Regions from separate parts of the Homo sapiens genome. Here region 2 is linked to region 1. Evidence: fine-mapped expression QTL. A gene starts in region 1. The other region holds a variant in brackets. All regions are shown on one strand. Distances are between the middles of the regions.

Region 1 (9,430 bases):
CTTCTCCTAACCACATCATTTTTTTTTTCCCCTTTCTCTTACCTTCTCTAACTAGGCTTTGGGTATCATTGACTCTTTTGAGATTAGTTGTTGTTTATGTCTGGTTTATATGACCAAAGAAAATAAACAAATTCTATTATCTAATTGAATCATAAAGTATGAATACACTCCATGCTGAAGGTTGTTGCTCCTCATTTAAGGACATCACACTTTAATGGCTTGAGGTTATTTATTACTATTTTTGAGAAAGGAAGAGATGAAATATGAGGGGGTTAAGTGTATTTAATGTAAACTAAAATGTTTCTGAAGTGTGATAGTGATTATGTAGTAGAACAACTTAAGATCCTTGAAATCCAGTGTGAACAGGTTAAAGAGCTCTAGGATGGTTAAAAGTAAGGTCACAATAATAGAAACAAAGGTTATGTTCTTGAGACATTAATTTAGGTTGAATGATATAGAATTGTCACCTTTTAAGATAAAAAACAGTTGAATACTGGCAATTTCATATGGTCCACTTGATAGACGTTCAGGAGGGAAGAAATGCAGAAGTAGGGAGTGTGAAGGAAAGGGCATAGGTCTTCAGGTGTGGTACCGTCAACCAGGGCCATCACTTTTTAATACTGAATGGCTAGGCTCTTGCAGATGTAGATCAAACCGTATTTAGTTGTCTCTTCTGTTTGTAGGGAAGAAACGGGTTGCAAAATATTCCATGCCAACAGGTGTATAGAAGCCTTCAGGGATTTTTCACCGTCATCACATTTCCAAAGGATTTAAGAAAACTTACAAAAACACATGACATTTTAAAAAGTGAGGAAATCGAGGATATGGGAAAAGAAAGTGACATCCAGATCTCCTAATATGATGTAAACAATGGCCAGCACAGTACTTCCTCAAATCGTTTTGGAAGAAAAAGTATAAATAATATCCAGCACTGTGATTCTCTCCCTGCTAAGCAACTGCAATTTTGGGTTACTATGTAAATGTAGCAGTAGGTGCCATTGAGAGGCAGCTTTCTAATAAGAAAATAAGTATTTTAATTAAATTGTATTTCGGCCGGGCTCATGCCTGTAATCCCAGCACTTTAGGAGGCAGAGGCGGGCGGATCACAAGGTCGGCAGTTCAAGACCAGCCTGGCCAACATGGTGAAACCCTGTCTTTACTAAAAATACAAAACTTAGCCAGGCATGCTGGCGGGCGCTACGTGATCCCAGCTACTGGGGAGGCTGAGGCAGGAGAATCACTTGAAGCCGGGAGGCGGAGGTTGCAGTGAGCCGAGACCATGCCATTGAAAAAAAAAATTTGTATTTCAAGATTTGACTACAATACTGAAATAGGTAGGAAAAGGTGTTCTTTCAAGAGACTATCTTCATTTCCAGCCATTTTAAAAAGCTATTCCATGACAATAACTCAAGTGTGGTCTAAGAGGGTTCTCTGAATCTGACTAAAGTAGTGAGTGATGCTTTTGGTATATGCATCTTTTGTTAAAAAATTTAAAAAACGGATACATATTTGTACATATTTATGGGGTACATGTGGTATTTTGATACATGCATACAGTGTTGTAATGATCAAATCAGAGTGTTTAGGGTATCTATCACTTTGGACATTTTTTTTCCGCCCCCTCTCCCCTGTCACCTTGAACATTTGTCATTTCTTGTGTTGGGAACATTTCAAATCTTCCCTTCCAGTTATTTTGGAATATAAAATATATTGCTATTTACTATAGTCACCCTACTGTGCTATTGAACACTAGAACTTATTCCTTCTATCTAACTGTATGTTTGTACCAATTAACCAACCTCTGTCACCCTACCTCCATATGTATCTCTTAAAAGCATCGCATCAAAAGCAGTATAGTTAGTTCAGGTAGGTTTTTTTTTTTGGGACAGTCTCAGTCTTGCTGGAGCGCAGTGGTGCCATCTCGGCTCACTGCAACCTCCACCTCCCAGGTTCAAGTGATTCTCCCGTCTCAGTCTCCTGAGTAGCTGGGATTACACGTGTGCGCCACCAAGCCTGGCTAATTTTTGTATTTCAAGTAGAGATGGGGTTTCACCATGGCAATCAGGCTGGTCTCGAACTTCTGACCTCAAGTGATCTGCCTGCCTTGGCCTCCCAAAGTGCTGGGATTACAGGTGTGAGCCACCACGCTCAGCTAGGCTATTTTTTTCTTTTTCAGAAGTGTTTTTTTTGCTTGTCAAAATGGTCTGCGGACGTGCCGTCCCCACCCCCCAAAAAAGAAAGAAAAAAGACAATTCATGTCTCATATCATTTGCCAATTGGTATCAATGAAGAAACGAATTTAACTCCTGTGGCCAAGTACTTTGCTCTCAAGGTGGCTGGACTAACACTTTGCAAAAAGGGTATGGCGATAGCGTAGAACATATCCCCACTCCTGAAAAAAAAAACAAAACAAAACTGAAAATGCCTGAAATATCCTTTCTAGGGAAAGAGCTACCTTCCACCCAAGAGATCCGGGTAGGAACAGAGTGATAATAGTGACTTCCCTTCCTCCCTCCCAGTCCACTTATTTTCACCTGTCCCGCTCTTCAAGGCACCCATCTCTTTTTCCATTTTCCCCACCCCAAATCAGGTTATTTTGTGACTTTTATTTCCTTAAAAGTTTTTGTTGTAAAATAGTACATAGGTTATACGACTCAACTTTGAAAGTGACTTTTCCACTTAAATATGAGACTACAAGGACTATTAGAAGAGATGAACCCTATTCTTGGACTCAGAATTTTGAGTCTCGTTTCCGCATGTTTGTGGTTTTTAGGTTAATTCCCTGGAAATTTGATCTTTGTACAATTAAGAGCAAAGTAACCATACAATGTTTCTGATCCTGTCAGCATAGGCGGTTAAGTGCTTTGGAACTGGGATGTAAACTCAGTATCTCACAAATGGATTACCTATTAAGTTAGGACACACAAAATCTGGTTAAAGTGCTTGGACTTCACAACCTCATCCACCAGCACATCACATATCACACAAAATATAATAATCACAGTAATGGGAAAACTGAATCTTGAGCCAGATTTCTAAAAAACAGGTATTGTGGACAGTGTTTCCACCTCTTGAATTTAACTTCTTTCTTGGCAACTATACTTGAAGGTAACAGGGAGAGATGTCTCTTAGTTGGCAAAACACACACTTAAAACCTGAGCATTTTCCCCCAGGATGACAGCAAGATACCAAGGATGCCAAAGAAGGAAGGAGTGTTAACCTAATCCAGTAAGAGAAACAAGATTTTAAAATACAACAAAAATGTTCCAATGGGGGAAAAAAGGTAGTTCACCGGTTCACGACTTTAAAAAACGTTGGCAGTGGTTGATGGGCTTATTTCAGGAGATATCTGACTTGGTACCAAGAGGATAAAGAGGCCGGGAATAATACGTTTGTGCAGCAAAATGGTTATGTGACCGATTTTTTAAAACACAGAATTCTGCCCCACTGAATACATACACATACCACAAGTAAAATGAAATATACTTTTAAGTGCCCGTTTTGGTGCCACTGGCCAAAATTAAAACTCTCCTTCCGTATGTGAGGTGACTTGAGATTTCTTTTTTGCTTTAAATGCCTGCCTTCAGGGTACGTGAAAGTGGGAGACCGGTTGGAAAACTGGGGCTAAGGGGGCTGGGAGCGAGATGGCTGTGACTGAATCAGGAAGCTGGATGTGAGAGAGAAAAATCCTCCTCCAGCCTCGGAGGGGGTGTCTCCCCTAATACCAGCTCCCTCCCCCCGGGCTCGTGGGGCGGGTCTGGTTTGCTCAGTAGCGGCAGCGGCCGCAGCAGCAGCCCCGGGGCTGAGCAGCGGTGGCCTCCTGGCAGCGCAGGGAAGCGGCGGCTCCAAGAGCGCGAGGCCCTGGGGAGATCCGGCCAAGACTGCTGCCGGGATGGAGGAAGCGTCCAGTGGAGCAGGAGTCACCGGGGACGAATTTCCTCCCCAGCTCAGCTCCCCTACAGCTTGGCTAGGCCTGCTCCGAGCGCCTGCAAGGTGGAGGAGGCCTGCGCCTCGGGCCTGGCAGCGGCAGCCGGCGAGGGAGGCGGGCACAGCGGGGTAACCGGCGAGCCGTAGCCGCTCTCGAAAACCTACGCTGCCACGGCCGCTCATTGTCTCTCCCCTTCCACCCGGGGGCAAACAGGAAGCGCGCCGCCTGGCAGACCGACGGACAGGCGCCTGGACCAATGAGCACAGCCGACAAAGAGCACGGCGGCGAATGAGAGCCAAGAAGAGGGGCGGGAGTTCCGGGCGGGCTGTCACCCTCTTCCCCCCTTTTGGGCTGGAGGCTCCACCTTTTGTGTTTCCCGCACAGTCAATCAAAATAGGAAAAAAAAATCCCCGGACCGCTCCGGCCGTGTCCGCCGCCGCTTCCCGCATCCTCTCCCGCCGCCGCCGCCTTCGCTCCTCACCATGTGTAAGGCGGCGGGGAGCCCCGCCTGAGGTGCCCTAAACACACTATGACCGGTACGTAAAGCCGAGAGAGCAACCCTTGCTGCTGCCGCCGCCGCCGCTGCCGCCGACCACAGCCAGCCCGGGGCCGCTGCCGCCGGTCTCGGCCCCGTGTGTGCGACCGAGTGTCTGTGAGAGGCAGAAAGCTGCACTCCCCTGCGCCTCCCTCCCCTCCCCGCCAGCCACCGTCCACCCCCGAAGCCCCAGCAACGCCGTCTCCCCGCCAGGCCCCGGGGCGGGCGGCCCGGTCCGCCGGGAGCGCATCCCCCTGTGTGCGGGCGCGGGCGGGCGTGTGTGAGTGACTGACGGTGCGAGAGGAGCGAGCGCGAGTGAGAGCGAGCGGCGCGAAGGGAAAGGGGAGGAGAGGAGAGGGGGCAGGGGCAGCGCGGGGAGGAGGAGGAGGAGGGAAAGAGGAGGAGGAGGAGGGTTACAGGCAGCGGCGGGCGGGGGCAGCAGCAGGAGGGGAGGAGGGAGCCGCCGCCGCCGCCGCCGCCGGGGGGCGGGTGGGGGAGGGGAAGGGGCCTGGGTCCGGGCTTTGGGAGTAATTTCGCTTCGGCCCGCGGGCCCCCTCCCTCTCCGCCACCCGCCTTCCTCCCCACCCCCACCCCCCCGCGCTGTGCCTGCAGCTCCCGAAAAGCCCGTGAAACAAGAGGAAATGGCTGCCTTGGACGTGGATAGCGGCGGCGGCGGTGGCGGCGGCGGCGGCCACGGCGAGTATCTGCAGCAGCAGCAACAGCACGGAAACGGTGCGGTGGCGGCGGCAGCGGCGGCCCAGGTGAGGAGCGGCTGAACCCCGGCCCGGCTCCCCCCTCGCGCCGCTTTCTCCTCCCCTCGCCTCTCCCCTCCCTCCTCGCCTCACCCCTCCCTCCTCGTCTCTCCCCTCCCCTCCACTCCCCTCCCCCCGCCCCGGGAGCTGCCCGCCCGAGGCGCCAACGCTCCGACCCCGCCCGCGCCGCCCCGCCTCGCCCGCCTGCCGCCTTTTTGTGCGCGTGTGAGTGTGGGCCCCAGCGTGCCCTCCCGGGGGTGGGTTCCGGGCGGAAGGCGGAGGCCCGGCGCGCAGCCCGCCGCCCGCCTGCCCGCGGACCGGGGAGCCGGGGTGCTTGGAGCGGGGGACGCCAGGCGTGGGCTGGCGGCGGGACCAGGAGGAGGAGGAGGAGGAGGAGGAGAGCGCGGGCTGGCGCTTGCCCGGGCGCAGTCGGCGGGGACCGAGTCGTACTTCCTGTGCGAAAGGCGGCCCGACCCTAACCGCCACCCCCTCCCCCTGTCTCCCTCTCTGAACCCGCCCATTGGGGGTAGGACACTCAGCCGTCACCGCTCGCTCTGCTGGCCGCTACCTGCAGCAAGATAGGGCCGCCATCGCCGGGCGACGACGAGGAGGAGGCGGCCGCCGCAGCCGGGGCCCCCGCCGCCGCCGGAGCGGTAAGTCCCGCGCGCGGCCCGCCCCCGCCGAGGCCGGGCGCCCGCCATCCCGGACCCGTGGCGCGCCTGCCCAAAAGGCCTCCCCGGCGCCCGCGCTTCCCCCGACCCGCACGGGCCGCTGGGCTCCAGGGCGCCCTTTCCTGCTCTTTCGCATCCCGGTTTGGATCTGAAGCCAGCCCAGGCTTTCTCGAAATTGTCACTGCAGCACCTCGCGCAAAATCTTCACAAAATGAAGTCTGAGAGGGCGGGGGTAGAGGACTCCAAAATGGATGTTTGAGCAATTCATATCAGTGCTGAAAACTCCTTCGCTTAACACTACAAAATTTTCAAGCACAGCCTATCGGCCATAGATAGTATCAACTAGAGGCAATGTCTTTAGTTTTTATTATTTTTGAACCTGGAGCATTTTCTGTTGGACGTTACAGGATCTTACTGCTTTAAATCATACATTATTAAAAAAAATGAGGGTTTATTCTTTGAATTACCCTTTTGTATGCAGGAGTGAAGACTGCTTTTTTAGTTGACCATTCAAAATCGTTGAATTTTAGTTTTTGCAGACTACTAAAATTTGCAGTGACTTTTTTTTTGTAAGGGGGGTAAATGAAACATTTAGCAGCCTTTGAAATCAGCAAGTTGCTTAGATAGTACTTTAGATTTTGAAACTGAATATAACAGTGTTAGAAAAGTATGTGTAAGGAATTGTATTTACGTGCATACTAGTAGTACAATACTTATAGCTGAATTTGGTTGGCAAAAGTATGTTTTCATTTTATTACGACTGCTAGTCAGGTAAGATATGGTGGGATTCTTTCTGTAGTGTTTTCAGTGTCTGGGCAAGGGGAGGAGCTCGCCTGTGTTATATGAGGGGTTAATACCAATAGGATAGGAACAGTTTTTAGACTGTTAATTGTGAATTTTACATTTGGGTCATCACTGTTGTGTAGATTTGTTCACCTATTAAAATAATGAAAACCCTCATTTGAGTGTGTGTGTGTGGTGGATCATAGGAATTGATTTGTGGAGTGATACTTTCAATAGTCACTGAAGACAGAAGTTTGGTATTTGGTATAGTCTACAACAAATGCTTAGTATGTCCAGGTATTTTTTTTTTTTAAGTTAAACCAATGTTAAGCTATTACTGGTAAATAATTTGTAATTTTAGTGCTTCGTTATAGGGGATGTGAATAGTTTTAATGTCTTGTTTTTTCATAAGCAGATTAACATGTAAAAATGTAAAATTATATTAGGCTTTGTTATTTTTAAATACATTTATGGATTGGTACGCCTTCTGTTCACCTCATTTCAGCTTCGCTGAGAGTTGGTAGATTTTTTTATGAACTGTATCCCTCTAGTTCCAAAGTGCCAAAACAAATTGACTGTATCTTAAAAAACTACTGCATAAGTAAAATTAAAAAGCAGATTGCTTCTCCTGATCTTTTTTGTATTTCAAATGGAACAAAACTTTTCTTGTAACTGTAATTTGTAAAGTTTAGATATCAGTTTACAGATGGGGGAGGGGAGAAGGAAGGAAATATGGGTGAATAATATGTGTATGTACATACATATGTGAGTCTGAGGCCCAAGGATAGAATACTGTCTCCAACCTTAGCCAGCTGTGGCCATATACTTGTAGGGAAGTTTCCATGCTTCTTCAGCTGCTTTTCTGAATTACCAAATCACTCCTGACAACACATATTCTGCCACATGAAGACGAACTAGAATCAATCTGATAAATCTGAGATTTATCAATCAAATACATCATAATTTGCCAATCATAGTAAAATGAAAATAGTTTTGCCTAAAAAAAAAAAAAAAAAAAAAAAAACCCAAACCATATATTTATGATGTCTGGTACCTGCACCCAAGATTTTTCACTTTGAGTAAAATTGGTAAGACTGGCTTGTGTGTATTTGCCTTAGCAAATAGAAAATTTGCTAAAAATTTATTTTTCCAGTGCAAATATGAACTTAAGACATCTTTTCAGCACATCTTAGAAAAGGAAATTCACATGAGTTCATGGGCTTAGATAATCTTTTATTACTCAAATGACTGGGAATTATGAGAGGTTATAGCTGTGTTTTTAAATAATTGTATTTTGGAATAATTTTAAATTTATAGAAAAGTTGGAAATACAGAACTGAGTAATCTCATACCCTTCATCCAGCTTCCCCTAATGTTAGGATAATGATGATACATTTGTCCAAATTAAGACATGAACATTGGTATGACATTACTAACCAGACTTTGTTTGCGTTTCACCAGCTTTTCCACTAATGTCCATTTTCTCTTCTGGGATCCAGTCCAGGATTCCACATTGCATATATATTGTTGTGTTTAAACAAGTGGAAATATACACATACAGATGAACTTTATGCCAGTTTAGCTTGGTATTTTGAGATTAAAAGGGCCTTGAAAAGCCAATCAACTGTGCTGAAGATTGCTTTTAATATTTGGATTTTGAATTTGGAATTTGTCATAAAAGAGGATCCTAGCCAAGGGTGTTTGGTTACCCACAGTACATTGCTGAAGAAGTCTAGTCATAAAGCAGTCTCGTATATAATGTCGTACAACATGGACTCTGAAAGATGGTTTTATAGCAACGCTCCTTTGTACTTAAGTTGTGGCTAATTTTAGTAGTAAACCAGGAAATAGAAAAAAGTAGACCTTTGTGCAAGTATTAACTTTGACCAGTTTGCATTTATGTGAACTTGTGGATTATTAATTTACTTCATTTTTACTTTAGTGGAATAAAATAAGTGACTTTTATTTTTATTTTTATTTTTTTGAGACAGAGTCTCACTCTGTCGCCCAGACTGGAGTGCAGTGGCGCGATCTCGGCTCACTGCAGGCTCTGCTTCCTGGGTTCACAGCATTCTCCTGCCTCAGCCTCCCGAGTAACTGGGACGACAGGCGTGTGCCACCATGCCCGGCTAATTTTTTTTTTTTGTATTTTTAGTGGAGACAGGGTTTCACCGTGTTAGCCAGGATGGTCTCGATCTCCTGACCTCATGATCTGCCCACCTTGGCCTCCCAAAGTGCTGGGATTACAGGCGTAAGCCACTGCGCCTGGCCTAAAATAAGTGACTATTATGAAAGTGATTGCTTGATCTTTGGTTTAGGTTGTAAATTTAGTGTTCCTTAATTTGGCACATAAATGTTGAGCTAAAAAATAAGTAATAGCTTACTTCAAAAAAGTTATTTTGCCATTATTTAAAATAAGACCTGTGCTGTCATTGTAACTAATTCATTGGGTAGGGTAATTCTATTTGAAGTCTGAGTTCTTTTAGTGCTCTTTGAAGATTTTAAGAAACTTGAATATTTGCCTAAGTTCTTAATTTGTTTCCACCTCAGCTTCACACCTGTTCTTGTTTCCAGTTATACTCCTTCCTTTCCTATTTCTGGCTTTCGTAAAGGCATTCGTGGGAACTAAGTTAATAATCATTTCCAAATGCTATGCAATAGGTGGTGTGAATTTTTTCTTTTTCCGTTTCCACCGGTATATTTGTATGTAGAGAGACTTAGAGTGCCTTAGTTACAACTTTTTACTGTACTAATGCCAACA
Region 2 (9,581 bases), 74 kb before region 1:
TTGTATTTTTAGTAGAGATGGGTTTCTCCATGTTGATCAGGCTGGTCTTGAACCCCAACTTCAGGTGATCCACCTGCCTCAGCCTCCCAAAGTGCTGGGATTTCAGGTGTGAGCCACGGGGCCCGGCCTACCATTTCCTTTTTAAAATAAATTGGTGTTTATTTCTGTCAGCCTTCTTTTCATGGTGCTTAAAAGCCTGTGGATAAACAGCTTAAGCCCATTCAGTGGTTGCTCCTACACGTTTAGTGGCTGAGCAGTGGGAGCTGCAGACTAGTCTTCCGTGGCAAGCAGAGCGCTCCAGTCTTCAGTAGGGAGCTGCTGAATAGGCACAGAGGGCATCTGCCACCTTTAGACCAGTCTGCGCCCTCAGGCTGAGTAGCAGTGGACTCAGGAGCTGCAGCAGTCCATTCATCCTGAAATTCCTCTTGGTCACAGCCTTTCTAGCAGCAGCCTGCTCTTCTTTACAATCTCTTCAGGATCTCTGTGGAAGCAGAGATCAGACATGACCTCCCATTCACAGATGGTGCCAGGCATGTACAAGACTTTCCAGGCTAGCATCTACCATGTCAAACCCCCTGAGTGAGCTCCCTTGTTGTTGCATTGGATGGCAAGGCCCACATAGTGCAGAGGAGAATCTGTGACACAGAGCAATGGTAGGTAGGTTAATGTAAGATGCCTCTGTGAGGGGCTGGTGGTCAGCCCTGGGATCAGTAACCACCAGAAGCTGTGGCTCCCGGAAGGCTGCTGAGATCTGGTTAGAGAATGTTCTAGGAGTAAAGCAGCCAGCAACAAGAGTGGCTCCAGTGACAGCAGCAAACAACGGCGTGGCTTTCTGGCCAGTTTTCCTGGAGGATATGACACTGACATCAGCAGGGTTTTCAATGGCAACAATGGCACAAGCTGCCAGCAGCAACTTCTCCCAGGTCTTCTTCTGATTTAGGATGTAGATGCCATCACTTTTCATTTTATAGATGTACTGTTCCATTTGGAAGTCAAAATTAGTGTCACCTAAGTGGGTTCCTGCTGCAAGGAACTTGAGGACATCCTCCTCCTTCATTGGCAGGACATCAAGGGCTCTGGACATTGTGAACGTTTCCCTTTAAATTAAGACAGGAATCCAGAACAAGCCAGAACGGACCCCTCTCTGGGTAGTGCAGAAGCCCATTTCCAACATCAGGCCTAAGAAAAGTTCAAGACTTCTTTGTAATACTATTTGTTCTTAGAATACATCCAGTTAAGGGTAGGTAGTCAGAATACTGTATTCACAGGTCATTTCAACCTTTTTTTTTTCCTGTATGGTTCTATTATTAATTTTATATGCAGTTAAGTTCATTTGTTTATATTTGCATTTAATTTTAAGCTTTTCTTTTTGACAAATCTCTCAAAATTTAAAAAATTTTAAATATGGGCCAGGCGTGGTGGCTCACACTTGTATTCCCAGCACTTTGGGAGGCCGAGGTGGGTGGATCACCTGAGGTGAAGAGTTCGAGACCAGCTTGGCCAACATGGCAAAACCCCATCTCTACTAAAAATACAAAAATTAGCCAGTTATGATGGCACACGTCTGTAATCCCAGCTACTCAGGAGGCTGAGACAGGAGACTCACTTGAACCCGGGAGTTGGAGGTTGCAGTGAGCTGAGATCATGCCACTGCACTCCAGTCTGGGTGACAGAGTGAGACTCCATCAAAAAAAAAAAAAATTAAATATGTAAAACTTTTACAAGGTTCAAAAGTCAAAACTATATATATATGTATATATAAAATTATATATGTAGTTATATATAACTATATATCAAAAACTATACTCAGAATTTGATATGGTTTGGCTGTGTCCTCACCCAAATCTCATCTCGAACTGTAGTTCGCACAATCCCTGTGAGTTGTAGGAGGGACCTGATGGGAGGTAATTGAATCATGGCGGTGGTTACCCCCATGCTGCTGTTCTCGTGATAGTGAGTGAGTTCTCACGAGATTGATGGTTTTATAAGGGGCTTTTCCCCCTTCTGCTTGGCACTTCTTCCTGCCACCATGTGAAGAAGGACGTGTTTTCTTCCCCTCCCACCATGATTGTAAGTTTCCTGAGGCATCCCCAGCCATGCTGAATTATGAATCAATTAACCCGCTTTCCTTTACAAATTACTCAGTCTCGGGTATGTCTTTATTAGCAGCGTGAGAACAGACTAATACGAAAGGGTAAACTCACATCCTTATTACTTCCACTCCATTCCTGCCAATCCCCTATAGGCAACTACTTGTTTTTGGTTTATTCTTCCTGTATCTCTCTTTCTTATACAAAAAACGTAGCATAATATATCCATTATTTAGTACTTTAATTTTTTTCACTTAACATATCCTGGAAATTACTACATGTTAATTCAGAGAAATATTCCTCAACACTTGTCAGCTGTGTAGTACTCCATTGTGTGACTGCATCACAGTTTATTCAATTACTATCCTAATTGAATGAAATTGTTTCTAATATTTTGCTGTTTAAGTAATGTCTCCGTGAACAACCTTATAAATACGTTGTTTTATATTTGTAGAAGTGTACTTTCAGGATAAATTCCTGGAGTTAGTATTACTGAGTCAAAGGGTAAATTGCATATATAGTTTTGCTAGATATTTCCAAATTCCCTCCACAGGGGTGTATCATTTTGCATTCCCACCAATGATTATGAGAATCATTACAGCCTTGCCAATGGACTGCATGGTCAAACTTCTGAAATTCTGTCAATTTTATAAAGATTGGTATCTCAATGTAGTTCTAATATATATTTATAACATAATGAGTGAAGTTGAACATCTTTCTGTATTTTAAGGTCCATCTACATATTTTTGTATCTGTGTGTATGAACTGTTTGTTCACGCCTTTTGCCTAATTTTCTATCAAGTTTTGGCCTTTTCCCCTCAATATTTAAAAGTTCATTACATTCCTAATATTACAGATTAACCTGTTTCTGTGAAAATGTTGCAAATATTTCTCACAATGTGCCAATTTTCTTGCCATGCAGCAGGTTTTTTTAAAGTTGTTGAATTTATTAATACTTTATTTTATGCCGTTGGAGTATTTTATTTTTCATTAGCAAAGCATTCATTTTGGTGTCAGGCTGAGCTTGGACTGGGTTTCCATGCCTCTCTTAAAATTTTTATTTGAAAAAAAAACTACTTTTTTATTTTATTTTATTTTTTGAGACAAGGTCTTCCACTCTGGCCCAGGCTGGAGTGCAGTGGTGTGATCTTGGCTCACTGCAGCCTCGACCTCCTGGCTCAAATGATTCTCCTGCCTCAGCCTTCAGAGTAGCTGAGACTACAGGGATGCAGTGCTGCACCTGGCTAATTTTTAATTATTTTATTTTACTTTTTGTAGAGACAGGGTCTCAATATTTTGTCCAGGCGGGTCTCAAACTCCTGGACTCAAAGGATCCTCCTGCCTGTCCTTCCAAAGTGCTGGGATTGCAGGTGGGAGCCACTGTGCCCAGCTCCATGCCCCTTGATATCTTAAGTGTCTTCCTTTTTGTGAGGCACAGCTTTGAGACCTCTTTTCCTGTCTGCCAAGAAGGCAAAGGGGGCAGTGGGCCCAGTCAGTTTAATTGTTTTTTATCTGTTTCCCTCCGCTTGATCCCAGGAGCCCAGGTTGGGGACAGTCACTTAGCTCTAATGGGGTAGGGCAGATGCCACATGGAGGTGAAGATTGCACACACATCCCCTTTCCCCCCCAACTCCTGTCTTAGCTGGAGGAGCAAGCGCCCAGAGGCCCTTTGGTTTGCGTCTGGGATTTGAATCATAGACAGACTTCCCACACCCAGGGTATAAAGAAGTCCACCGATGTGTCTTCTAATACTTGTTTGTGTTCATTTTTTACGTTTGAATTTCTGATCCATTTGAGATTATCTTGCTGCATGGTGAGGGGTATGGGTCCAGTTTTCTAATAGGCAAGGTGGCCTATGAAGTGGGGGCGGGGTAGCAGGGGGAGAAGGAGCCACGATCTTGATGGTCTGGGCCACTAGGTGGCGATCTTCCAGGTTTCTCCTCCTTCAGGACGGTAGGAGAAAATGCTGTTTTGTTTTCAGAAGAAAAAGGAAATGAGTCATTAGGTTTAATTGGCCAAGAGGAAGCCCTAGTAAAAAGTTCCCCTCTGTCTACGCAACCTTGATTTCTGAAGGCAGGCCCTGTGCTTCTTTCCCTGTGTTAGAAAACATCATTTCCTCTGTGTCTCTGTTTCTCACCAGGAGGCTGATGTGGGCCAAGTGTGCGTGCACAAACACTGCCTTTGCCGTGAGCGCCTCCAGGTCCTGCGTAAGGCCATGGAGAGACTTCAAAGAGAGGTCAAGATGGCATTGCCCTGCCGTGTGCCTCTTGGGAAGCCTGGGCCTCGGAGTGACAAGACCTTGGTTCCTGTCCCAGTGCTGCTGCCACCCGGCCCTGTCATTGCAGGCATGCCACCTAGCCCTCTCTTCCTCAGTGTCCTCATCTATAAAATGGAACAATGTCTTCCCTAACCATGTGCCAAGGATTTCAATGGGATAAAATGATATAT[G/A]TGTGCTGCAAAGTAAAAACACTGTGTAAATATATTTCCACCATTATTATGGTTATATTTTATATGTGGATGCATCTCTATGGAAGATCTATTCTTTTTCTTTTCTTTTTCTTTTTTTTTTTTTTTTTCCGAGACGGAGTCTCACTCTGTCGCCCAGGCTGGAGTGCAATGGCATGATCTCGGCTCACTGCAACCCCTGCCTCCTGGGTTCAAGCGATTTTCCAGCCTCAGCCTCCTCAGTAGCTGGGATTACAGGCACCCGCCACCACGCCCGGCTAATTTTTTTATTTTTAGTAGAGACGGGATTTCACCATGTTGGTTAGGCTGGTCTCAGCCTCCTGAACTCGTGATCCACCCACCTCGGCCTCCCAAAGTGCTGTGATTACAGGCGTGAGCCACCACCCCCGACCGATCTATTCTATATCTTACAAGAATTTGTATTTATAGGCTGTATTAATAGGTTGATTTGCTGTTTATAAGGTGTTTTTTTTTTTCACACATCCTCTCTTCTGTGAAAGGGACACAGCCTTAATGAGAAAATGGACTGGTTTTGAAAGAACTGCCAAAGTAGCGACCTTAGGAGAAGGTCTACAATGTGCTTTCTCTGAGGTTGTGTACAGAATTATGTGTGTGTGTAATTTTTCCCAGCTTGTATCAGATTGCTATAGGAGTTCATAGCTCAAAGGTGGTTAAGAACCACATTCTTGAAAAAGGGAGCCAGACTGGCCTCAGGACCCCCTCCCCATTTGGCTTCTGGGAGGACTGAACTGGTTCCAGTCCTTTCTTAAGTCCTACATGGGGTCTTAAGGCTACTGATCTCCCTCCTTGCTGTAGCTGGTCTGGAGAGAAAGAGAAAAGAGAAACGGGAAGGGCTTGTAGTGTCTAGAAACCAGAGGTGAAACTCTAAGTTAGTAAGGCTTCAACGGCAGCTCTGCAGGAGGTCAGAAAACAATTTAGTCTTGCAAAATTCTTTTTGTCATGCCACAGTGGTCCTCTTTCTGCTCCTCAAGTGTGCTAAGGTTGATGCTACCTTGGGGCATTTTGCAGAGGCTCTTTTATTTACCTAGAATATTGTTGCCCTGGCTTCTCCTGGACTGGCCCCTTCTTTTTATCCAGCTCCAATGTCATTTTCTCTGAAAAGTCCTCCCGATCCCACAATTCCCCCGGCCCAAATTATTTTCCAAGAGCATCTGTCACCATGGGAAATCATCTTTTTTATTTGTTTACTTTGTTGTCTGCATTGCCTGCCTTTCTCCCAACAGAATTAAAACTCCCTTTGGGTAGTAGCTACATGTCATTTCTAGAGTCTACAGCAGTATCTGCCACAAAGTAAGCACTCAGTACACTCCTATGGAATGGACACTTGTATCATGAAAGGAGCTGAGTTCTTGTTAGAAGGTGCTGCATGGCATCTGTGACTCGTCTTTCCCTTGGTGCCAACTCTATGTCACCAAATCTTCAGTGGGTTCTACTTCTGAAGAATGTCTTATACCTGTCCCTCTGTCCCCTCCTATTTCCCACATTCCCAGAGCCACTGCTCTGATACCTGGGTAGTGACAGCCCTATACCTTTCTCCCTGCTGCCCACGCTTCCTAAAAGGCGAGTGGCCCTGCCCCTGCTCTACTTCACCCCTTGCTTCCATTCACGCCCCACTTCTGGGACAGCCAATCCCTCTTGGTATTCTCCTGCCATTCTTGGACTAAATCAAAGCATCTTCCCCGCAGTACCCCGAGGTCCTGCCTTCCAGCCGGCAGACCTTGCTCTTCTCAGTAGCAGAGCCCAGCATGGAAGGGGAGGGAGTTCCTTAGGAATCTCTTAAGAAGACCTGAGGTCCACTGTGGATTCATGAGGCTCCTGAAGGCAGCAGGGGGTGTGAAGAGGGGCTGGGCAATAGCCAGAGGGAGCTTTCTGAAGATGGCTCAGGAGGAAGTGGAAAAGGGCCCCGCACAGGCAGATCTGGGGTCCCAGACAGCTCATGGGGAGCGTTGGGTAAAGGATTCTGGGGCTGCCCTAACACAAAGCGGTCAAGGCCTTGGAAGAGCTGGAGTGGAGATGCTCGCAGGCAGTGTGGTAACCCTACCCCTTCTTGCCTCTTATGCAGCCATATGCCTGTCCAAGGGTGAGCTGGTGGGCTGTGTAGGAAATTAAGAGGGGATCAAGCAAACCCAGGGAGACAGGACATCTGGCATTGCTGAGGGAACTGCCCACAGCCAATGTGGCCCTTCTCTTCCCATCAAAAGCTGTTGCCAGGTGTAGGTGGGCAGGGGCTGGCAATGGCTTGTACCTTGTATATTAGAAATTTATTGTGGTCTGTTCAGGTAACAATGTTTAGAGACCTTTCTTATGAAAGGTGCTATGTTCCCTGTGAGTCATTAAGACTATTTATTTATTTTTAATACCAAATGTCTAAATTCATCTACCCTCTAGGGATCATTTCATCTTGTACTGTGTGCTATCTCAGCAGAAAAAATGCTTTCCCCAAATGTGTCAGTTCTATTTTTAAAAAGGTTCAGTGACCTATTTCTGTAATTCTCACAGACACTGGAAGTACAGCAGAGACTATTTAGGCTCAGCTTTGTCACCAAAAAGTTACCCTGGCTTCCAGGTGTTGCCTAGAGAGATGCCATCTTGCTTTGCAATGGAGAAGCATAAATAAGAGGAGTACACCTGTCCCCCCTCATGGAGGGAATTCACCCCAAGACTCTCAGTGTTTGTCTGAAACTACAGATAGTACTGAACCCTACATAGGCTACGTTTTTTCCTGTATATACATACTTATGATAAAGCTTAATTAATAAATTAGACACAGTAAGAGATTAGCAACAATAACTAATAACAAGATAGAACAATTAAGTGAAGTAAGAGTTACTGGAACACAGGCATAGTGATACTGCCAAGAGGGCTACGGAGCAACCACGGGCAGGGAGCGTCTATGGCACCAAGATGCTGGACAAAGGGGTGAGTCACGTCCTGGCAGGACAGAGTGGGGCAGTATGGGATTTAATCATGCCACCCAGAACAGTATACAACTGAAAACTTAGGAATTGTTTATTTCTGGTGTTTCCATTTAATATTTTCAGACCAAGGCTGATCATGGGTAACTGAAACTATGGAAAGTGGAACTTTGGATGGGGGGACTACTACATTGTCAGGATAAGATCATGAGAGCAAAAAACGTACACACATAGACACACATACGACATGTTTCTCCAGTTTCAAACAATGTCATGATGACTACACTCCGCCTTTAGCCAAACTCGACATTGGGAAATAGCTTAAGAATCAACAGTTTCTGAGACAAAGAACTTAAAAAGACAATTTACAAAAGAGAAACTACAGCTCATCAACTAAGATGTGGCAAGCGGTTAGATCCACTAGTAATCCAGGAAATGAAAATTAGAGCAACGCCACTTTCCAAAACTAGCCCCTGGTGGGAGAAGTCAGAACAACGATGACCCTTGGGTGGAGTGGAGGAGGGGGAACGGGGCCACAATAGTGGCCTCTAGGGGTAAGGTTCTGTTTCTTAATCTGGGTGCTGATTACTCAGGGGTGTTCACTTTGTAAAAATTCACTCGTGATTTGTGTACTTTTCTGAACGCATGATAAACTTCACTACAAAGTTTACATTAAAAAATCAAGCTCACTTTTTACCTATTAAATTAGCAAAAACAATTTTTTTTTAGTAATACTAGCCAGTGTGGTTTAAGCCATCACAAAGCTAACATTTTTACATATTGCTAATCACAGTATACATTAATATAGTGCCCTTTGGGGAGGAATTTGGCAGTATGAATGTAAAACTCTTGAGAAGCGTTCATACTTGTTAATTCGATAACTTCACTTCTGAGACTCTGTCTTAAAGAAATAACCCTAAATGCCAAAAAATGGTTTATGTGCACATACGCATTGCAATATCATTTATAGTAACAAAAATTGACAACATCAAAACACTGAAAGTAATCTAAATGTCCAACTCTAGGGCAATGGTTAAATAAACTTTGACAAATTCACATGATGATATTTTATGCACTCATTACAATAAACTAAAGTGAGTAATGACAGAAGAAAACACAATATAGTAAGTAGGAAAAGCAGGATATGAAATTGTAGACATGACTACAGCTAAGATTAAAAAAAAAAAAAAAACCCTACACAGAGAAAATCCCCAGAAGATCTTAAAAAATGAGTAATACTAGTGTTTGGATAACAGGACTATGAGTGGGATATTTTCTTTAATTAACTTTCCTGTGTTTTCCAAATGTTATTTAATGAGCCCGTATTGCTTTGTTGAAAGAGGGAATGTTCAGAGTCATCCTTGTGTGTGACTCTTCTGTTTCAGAAGGTGCTGCCTATGGTTCTCCCAGGTCCCCCACGTCCCAGCAGTCTGTGCTTTGGTGCCTGATATCGCCATTCCAGGATGAATGGAGCCAGTGATATTTAGGAGCAAACTGATTATCTGTCTCCTTTCTGCAGGGCTGACTAAAAACTGTCAACCCTGAAGGCCCTACTGAAGCAAGGTGTAGGGAGTTCAGGATGGAGCTCTACATTCTGTGGTTTGTAAGGAAGACTCAGTTGGAAAGTCTTCTGCTGGGTCACTAGGTAACCGCAGTGCCTAGTTCATTCGTTCATCCTCCCCTGTCTGCTGGTTCTTTCGGTTCAGGGAGAAATGTTCAACTCTGCTTCCTTCTCTAGACATCACCTTCACTCTCCTTTCCTTCCAGCCAAAGAACTTGAAAGGCAAGTCTTTGATACACTTCTTCTACATCTATCGTTTGCCTACCCCCCAACCTGCACCCCATTGCTGTGTTCTGGCTCATACGGGACTTGGTGGGGAGTGGTACCCGGCTTGGGGAGAGGGATGCTGGTGAGTTTTCAGCTCTCATCCTCATCCCTGCTCTACTTGGGTGCCTTTGAATACTCCCACAAACCTCAGTTGGAGCCCTGCTAATTTAGCTTCAATTTGCCAAATGGACCTCCAGTGCCATTGTGGCAGCCCCTCACAATGATGGCTCTGCCACCCTCCTTCCGGCATCCCAGAGGCAT

Alleles and levels. Alleles are on the strand shown, and positions count from the first base shown. SD is a standard deviation of normalised expression in the study named.
In carriers of allele A in region 2, the expression in monocytes of the gene that starts at base 4,256 in region 1 tends to be lower than with G alone (large effect, 1.6 SD a copy in Fairfax 2014).

The links.
Region 2: its variant is fine-mapped to the expression of SP3 in monocytes (Fairfax 2014, PIP 0.95).

The regions. Positions count from the first base shown.
Region 1 is chr2:173,960,199-173,969,628 of GRCh38, reverse strand. It overlaps SP3 (Sp3 transcription factor), which reads left to right and starts at 4,256. Exons shown (of 7, transcript NM_003111.5): 1 at 4,256-4,464; 2 at 5,076-5,224; 3 at 5,746-5,868. The coding sequence starts at 4,458. RefSeq lists silencers at 4,009-4,078, 4,579-4,858, 5,189-5,678, 5,809-6,058 and enhancers at 4,919-5,741, 5,742-6,565.
Region 2 is chr2:174,034,511-174,044,091 of GRCh38, reverse strand. It overlaps the pseudogene RPSAP24. Among named protein-coding and RNA genes, the nearest start is that of LINC01960, 14 kb to the right of the region's middle. RefSeq lists enhancers at 3,877-4,171, 5,927-6,427, 6,428-6,928 and a silencer at 3,875-4,275. The variant G/A (reference allele first, on the strand shown) is at 4,539.